Regions from separate parts of the Homo sapiens genome. Here region 2 is linked to region 1. Evidence: fine-mapped expression QTL. Tissue or cell type: whole blood. Region 1 holds a variant in brackets; the other region holds the start of a gene. All regions are shown on one strand. Distances are from middle to middle.

Region 1 (2,758 bases):
TTCAAAATGTATTCAACTTCAATCATTCGTTTTCAACTTTTTCTGCTAAATCTGGAACTGTTAGTAAGGATTGTCTCAAAGAACTGTCTTTTCAAAAAGACTTTAAAGATTATTCAGTAAATGGAATCTTTTTTGTTAAATCTCTGATTTAACCTCTCCTCTTCCATGTCCATCTCCTCTTCCTCTTTCCAAAAGTGGTGACTCAGATCTTCCTAGGACAGGCTTTTCCATAGATAGACAGCTCCAGTAGCTAAGAGAGAACTGAAATATTTCTGTAACTTAATTTTCTGGTTCTAACTTATCTTTATTTGGAGGACTCTGAATAAGTCATTACATTGGTTCTGTTAGTATCTAAGGCCAGCCATCTAATCTCAACTGAGTCTTTTTATCTCCAAGCTAAGCAACAATTCTTTTACTTATTTAAAAAAAATGTTTTAGATTCTATCATTTTTCATCTTTTACTGCATATTCTTTAGTTTAAGATGTGGTATCTAGAATTAAAAACACTATTTCACATTTGATCTATGAGTGCTAAGATTCAGGAGTAGACACTGATTAAATAATGTAGTCAGGCTGTTAGCACTCCCAACAAACCTGCATTAGTTAATTAACTGCCATTTTTCCCCACGTTGTTTCAAATTAGGATCATTAAGATGGAAAGCATCCCTTCAGTGATTATGAGAGACGTAAGAGAGAAATAAAGGTTTTATTACTTACAGGTCCTGCGGTACACAGCATACCTGGAGCCCACATGCAGGGATGTCAGGGAGTGCATGGAGAGAGAGAGGAAGGGACCCGTGGGTCAACACCTTTATTGGGTCCAGGGTGTTAGCCAAACAGGTTTCCCAGGGGGAGTTTGAATTGGTGAGTTTAAGGCATGGGTTCTAGGAGGTCACATGGTGACTAAGAGGTGACCGCTGTGGCACATATGCACAATCCATGTGGGGTGTGAGTGTCAGTGGGGCCAGTTAAGCAGGGTGTATCTAGTTGTTCCATAGGGAAGTCACCAGGAAGCAGTTACATAATGTAGATACCTGGATCGACCAGGCTGAGGAACTGGGGGGCGGTGTAGAACTAGTAGTGTGTCAAGGGTGACTGAATCTTGCTTCTGGTATGAGAAAGTCCAGCTTATATTCAAAATGGATGCTGAGGTAACATAAGATTTTAAGAATTCACTAAACATATAAATTGCTGATCATCCTAATCTTATACAACTGATTTCAAAACCTAAATGTGGGTATTTATGATGCTTAAGCTTTAGGTTTTTTGTTTTGATCCATTGTTCCAGCTAATCAACACTCTTTTGGATTGTTTTTGCGATTTGTCGTGTTAGCTATTCTTCCCAGTTTTTCCTTTCCTGGCCTTCTCTTTAAGAATGATCACCTGAGGTCAGGAGTTCGAGACCAGCCTGACCAACATGGCGAAACCCTGTCTCTACTAAAAATCCAAAAATTAGCTGGGCGTGGTGGTGGGCACTGGTAACTCCAACTACTCAGGAGGCTGAGTCAGGAGAATTGCTTGAACCTGGGAGGTGGAGATTGCAGTAGCCGAGATAGTGCCATTGCACTCCAGCCTGGGTGACAGAGTGAGACTCCATCTCAAAAAAAAATAAAAA[TA/T]AAAAAAAAGACAAAAAAGAATGGTAGATATTCAGGCTGGGCACAGTGGCTCGTGCCTGTAATCCTAGAACTTTGGGAGGCCAAGGCAGGTGAATCCCTTGAGGCCAGGAGTTCGAGACCAGCCTGGCCAACATGGCGAAACCCCATCTCTACTAAAAATACAAAAATTAGCCAGGCGTGGTGGTGGGCGCCGGTAATCCCAACTACTCAGGAGGCTGAGGCAGGAGAATTGCTTGAACCCAGGAAGCAGAGGTTGCAGTGAGCCAAGATTGCGCCATTGCACCCCAGCCTAGGCAACAGAGCGAGACTCCATCTCAAAAAAAAAAAAAAAGAATGCTAGACATTCAAGCTGAGCGCAGTGGCTCGTGCCTGTAATCCCAGCACTTTGGGAGGCCAAGGCAGGCAGATCACTTGAGGCCAGGAGTTCAAGACCAGCCTAGCCAACATGGTAAAACCCCGTCTCTACTTAAAAGAAAAATTTAGCCAAGCGTGGTGGTGCACGTCTGTAGTCCCAGCTGCTCAGGAGACTGAGGCAGGAGAATCGGTGGAACCTGGGAGGCGGAGCTTGCAGTGAGCCAGATCAGGCCACTGCACTCCAGCCTGGGTGACAGAGCAAGACTCCATCTCAAAAAAAAAAAAAAAAAGAATTGTACACATTCAAAGAAGGTACACAAAGAGACAGGATGTCCTTGGGGAGGCCAGTGGGCAGCGCCAATAAATCTGGTGGGTTTGTGATGGTCTACCATCTGGCCCTTTTGGAGAATTAGAAATGGGATCTGAGGAATATTGGCATAAGGCTATATAAGCTCAAATATTATCATCCCCAATTGCACTATGTCTTCTTGTTTTAAAATGTAGGTGACACGGTTTGGCTCTGTGTCCCCACCCAAATCTCATCTTGTAGCTCTCATAATTCCCACGTGTTGTGGGAGGGGACCCAATGAGAGGTTATTGAATTATGGGGGTGAGTCTTTCCTAGTGCTGTTCTCGTGATAGTGAATGGGTCTCAGGAGATCTGATGGTTTTAAAATGGTTTTAAAAATGGGAGTTTCTCTGCACAAGCTCTTTGCCTGCTGCCATCCATGTCTTGCCTTCCAACATGATTGTAAGGCCTCCCCAGCCACGTGGAGCTGTGAATCCTA
Region 2 (2,758 bases), 140 kb before region 1:
TACTCGAAAAATTATAATTCTTGCAATTTTTTTTTTTTCTTTTTTGAGACGGAGCCTTGCTCTGTCACCCAGGCTGGAGTGTGGTGGCTCGATCTTGGCTCACTGTGACCTCTGCCTCCTGGGTTCATTCAATGGTCCTGATTGTCCTGCCTCAGCCTCCCAAGTAGCTGGGATTACAGGCGCCCGCCACCACACCCAGCTAATTTTTGTATTTTTAGTAGAGACGGAGTTTCACCATGTTGGCCAGATTGGTCTCGAACTCCTGACTTCAGGTGATCCGCCTGCCTCGGCCTCCCAAAGTGCTGGGGTTACAGGCGTGAGCCACTGCGCCCGGCCAATTCTTGCGATTTTTGAAAGATCAGTATGAACTGTGAGCTGTTTAACCTTTGAGGAACTGCTTTTTCCCTGTATCTGTCTGTATCTGATCCCACATGTATGTCTCTTCCCTTGTTTTTATTTTTTATTTTTTTAGAGACACGGTCTGGTTCTGTTGCTCAGGCTGGAATGCAGTGTTGCCATCAGAGCTCACTGCAGCCTTGACCTCCTGGGCTTAAGTGATCCTCCCACTTCAGACTCCCAGCCAGTAGCTGGGACTACAGGCACGCGCCAACACGCCTGGCTAATTTTTTCATTTTCATTTTTAGTAGAGACAGGGTCTTGCTATGTTGCCCAGGCCTGTCTGGAACTCTTGACTTCAAGCGATCCTCCCGCCTCGGCCTCCCAAAGTGCTGGGATGACAGGCGTGAGCCACCGCGCCGGGTCTCATTTAAATTTATAGGAAACTTGTGGTAAAAATAGCAAAACTCAACAAGCAAATATACATCAAGTGAGTGACATTTTATTTCTACATCAGATAAGTCAGCTTTTGCTTTTAGACAGGGAGACAGCTGTTCTACCAGCTGCTTTAAAATAAAAATGCAGAACTAACGCAGCGAAGGGAAGGAAAGTGTGGCTGGGAATGTCCAGTCAGCTGGAGGGGCTTGGAGCTCGGCGTTGGCTGGGAGCATTTTTATTGCTGCCGGGAGGAGGAAGGGGAAGCGGGGGAAGCGGGGGAGGCGGGGGGGCAGCGTGTTGTAAAATCAGTTTGAAGTAAACAAAAAGTTATGTTTTCCGAGGGGCCAGCAGCGCGGAGAGCAGGCCTAGCCCGCTGCCGGGAAGGCGGGTCTGTCCAGTAGAGACCGGAACGCCGCGCAGGCTCAGCAAAGGGCTAAGGCTGGAGCCGGGGAAGCTGCCTCTAGGTTAGCGAAGGGTAAAGGAAGTCAGACACTGACGCGAGTGGCCTCCCGATCCCGCAGTCGAGTGGAGAACCGAGTCCCGACCTAAGGTCGAATCATCAGGCGTCCCCGTCACCCAACAACCCACTCAGGCACTTCCGGTAAGAAATCTAGTGCCCTTGGCTCGGAACCTGCGTCGTAGTGCGCAAGCGCCCCGGGCCTGGAGACGGCCGCGGATGCCGAGGGAGGGGGCGTGTGAGCCGAAGAGGAAAGCGTCCTCTGCGCCTGCGCTCTCTGCGCTGCCCGGTGGGGCGGGGAAAGAAGCCCTGAGCCGGGATCTGGCACTCCCAGGACTCCCGGCCGGGGTAGCTCTTCACTCCTCAGCGCGACGTCGTGTCGAGTTCCCAAAAAGCTCCGCAGGGGCTGTAGGGAGGTAAGAGCCCCCCGTGACCGGTCGTCTCGGCCTCCCCTCAGCCCTGCTGTTCCCACAGGGGGGCGGGGTGACCGCTGGACCCGCCGACCTGGGCGCTGGGTCTGGCCCTCTTCCTCTGGGGACAGAGCCTGGGCCCCGACCGATTCCTTTTCCGAGCCCCCGGAGCTGGCCGGGGAACCCTGGCCCTCCAATCTGATGTCCCCTCCTGGAGCCTGAAGGGCCAGACCGGACTGGACCGGGAGGGCAATCACGGCGGCTGTTTGCCCGGTTCCCCGCTCCCGGGCCGCCGGAGTGTTCGGCGCTCCTGGGGGAGAGACCCCAGCGGACGGAGGGAGAAGCGCCCTGGCGCCGCCGTCCCGCCTGGGGAGGGGCTGCGACTGCGGAGGGGACTGTGGTTCTTCAGGAGTGGCAGAGGCTCGGTCCCCGCAGAGGAGTCTCATCGCCGCCGGTGCTCTCGCACTGTCCATTCCCGCACCCATGCATTTTCTCTTGGTTAGAGACCAGAAGGATGCAGTGGCCGTCTTTCCCGCTGCCTTTCCTTTGGTACTTTTGAGAACTCCAAAAGAGGACCTTATTTTTAACTCTTATTTGTACTATCGTGATTGCAAATATTATGTTCCAGACTAAGGATGTTCTTTCTTATTAGTTTGACTTGTATGAAAACCAGTCCATACATTTGATATTAAGTTAATCTTTTCAATTCAAAAAATAGGCACTTTGTTGATTCAATCAGATTCCTCCATTTATTCACTTGAGCTTGTCGTCTCTTGAGTTGGCGGGAGTTTAATGGTTTAATCCAGTAGAACTATATATAATTTTTCGCCTAATTTCTTCCTTTTTTTCCTCTCCTGGATATTAAACCGCATGCTTAGTGGCAAAAATTGAAAAAATAGAATAAAGAATAAGGAAAAATGATCAATCATAATTCCACCATGTAATAGTAATCAATTACTTATAATATTTTGACTTTTTTCCTTTGAGTCTTTTTTTCCCCTGTGCATTTTCTTGAGATGAGATTTTATATCGTTGGATTGTCTGCTTTCCTTGATTTAAATTACGTTGTAAGCATTTCCCCATGTTTTTAAAAAGCTTCATAAAAATGACTTCTTGA

What was found. PIP is the estimated chance that this variant, and not a neighbour inherited with it, causes the effect.
Region 2: it holds the start of ZFYVE16, and the variant in region 1 is fine-mapped to the expression of ZFYVE16 in whole blood (INTERVAL, PIP above 0.99).

The regions. Positions count from the first base shown.
Region 1 is chr5:80,551,351-80,554,108 of GRCh38, forward strand. No RefSeq gene overlaps it. Among named protein-coding and RNA genes, the nearest start is that of ANKRD34B, 18 kb to the right of the region's middle. The variant TA/T (reference allele first, on the strand shown) is at 1,616.
Region 2 is chr5:80,406,507-80,409,264 of GRCh38, forward strand. It overlaps ZFYVE16 (zinc finger FYVE-type containing 16), which reads left to right and starts at 1,558. Exons shown (of 19, transcript NM_001284236.3): 1 at 1,558-1,647. RefSeq lists an enhancer at 1,520-2,318 and a silencer at 2,039-2,158.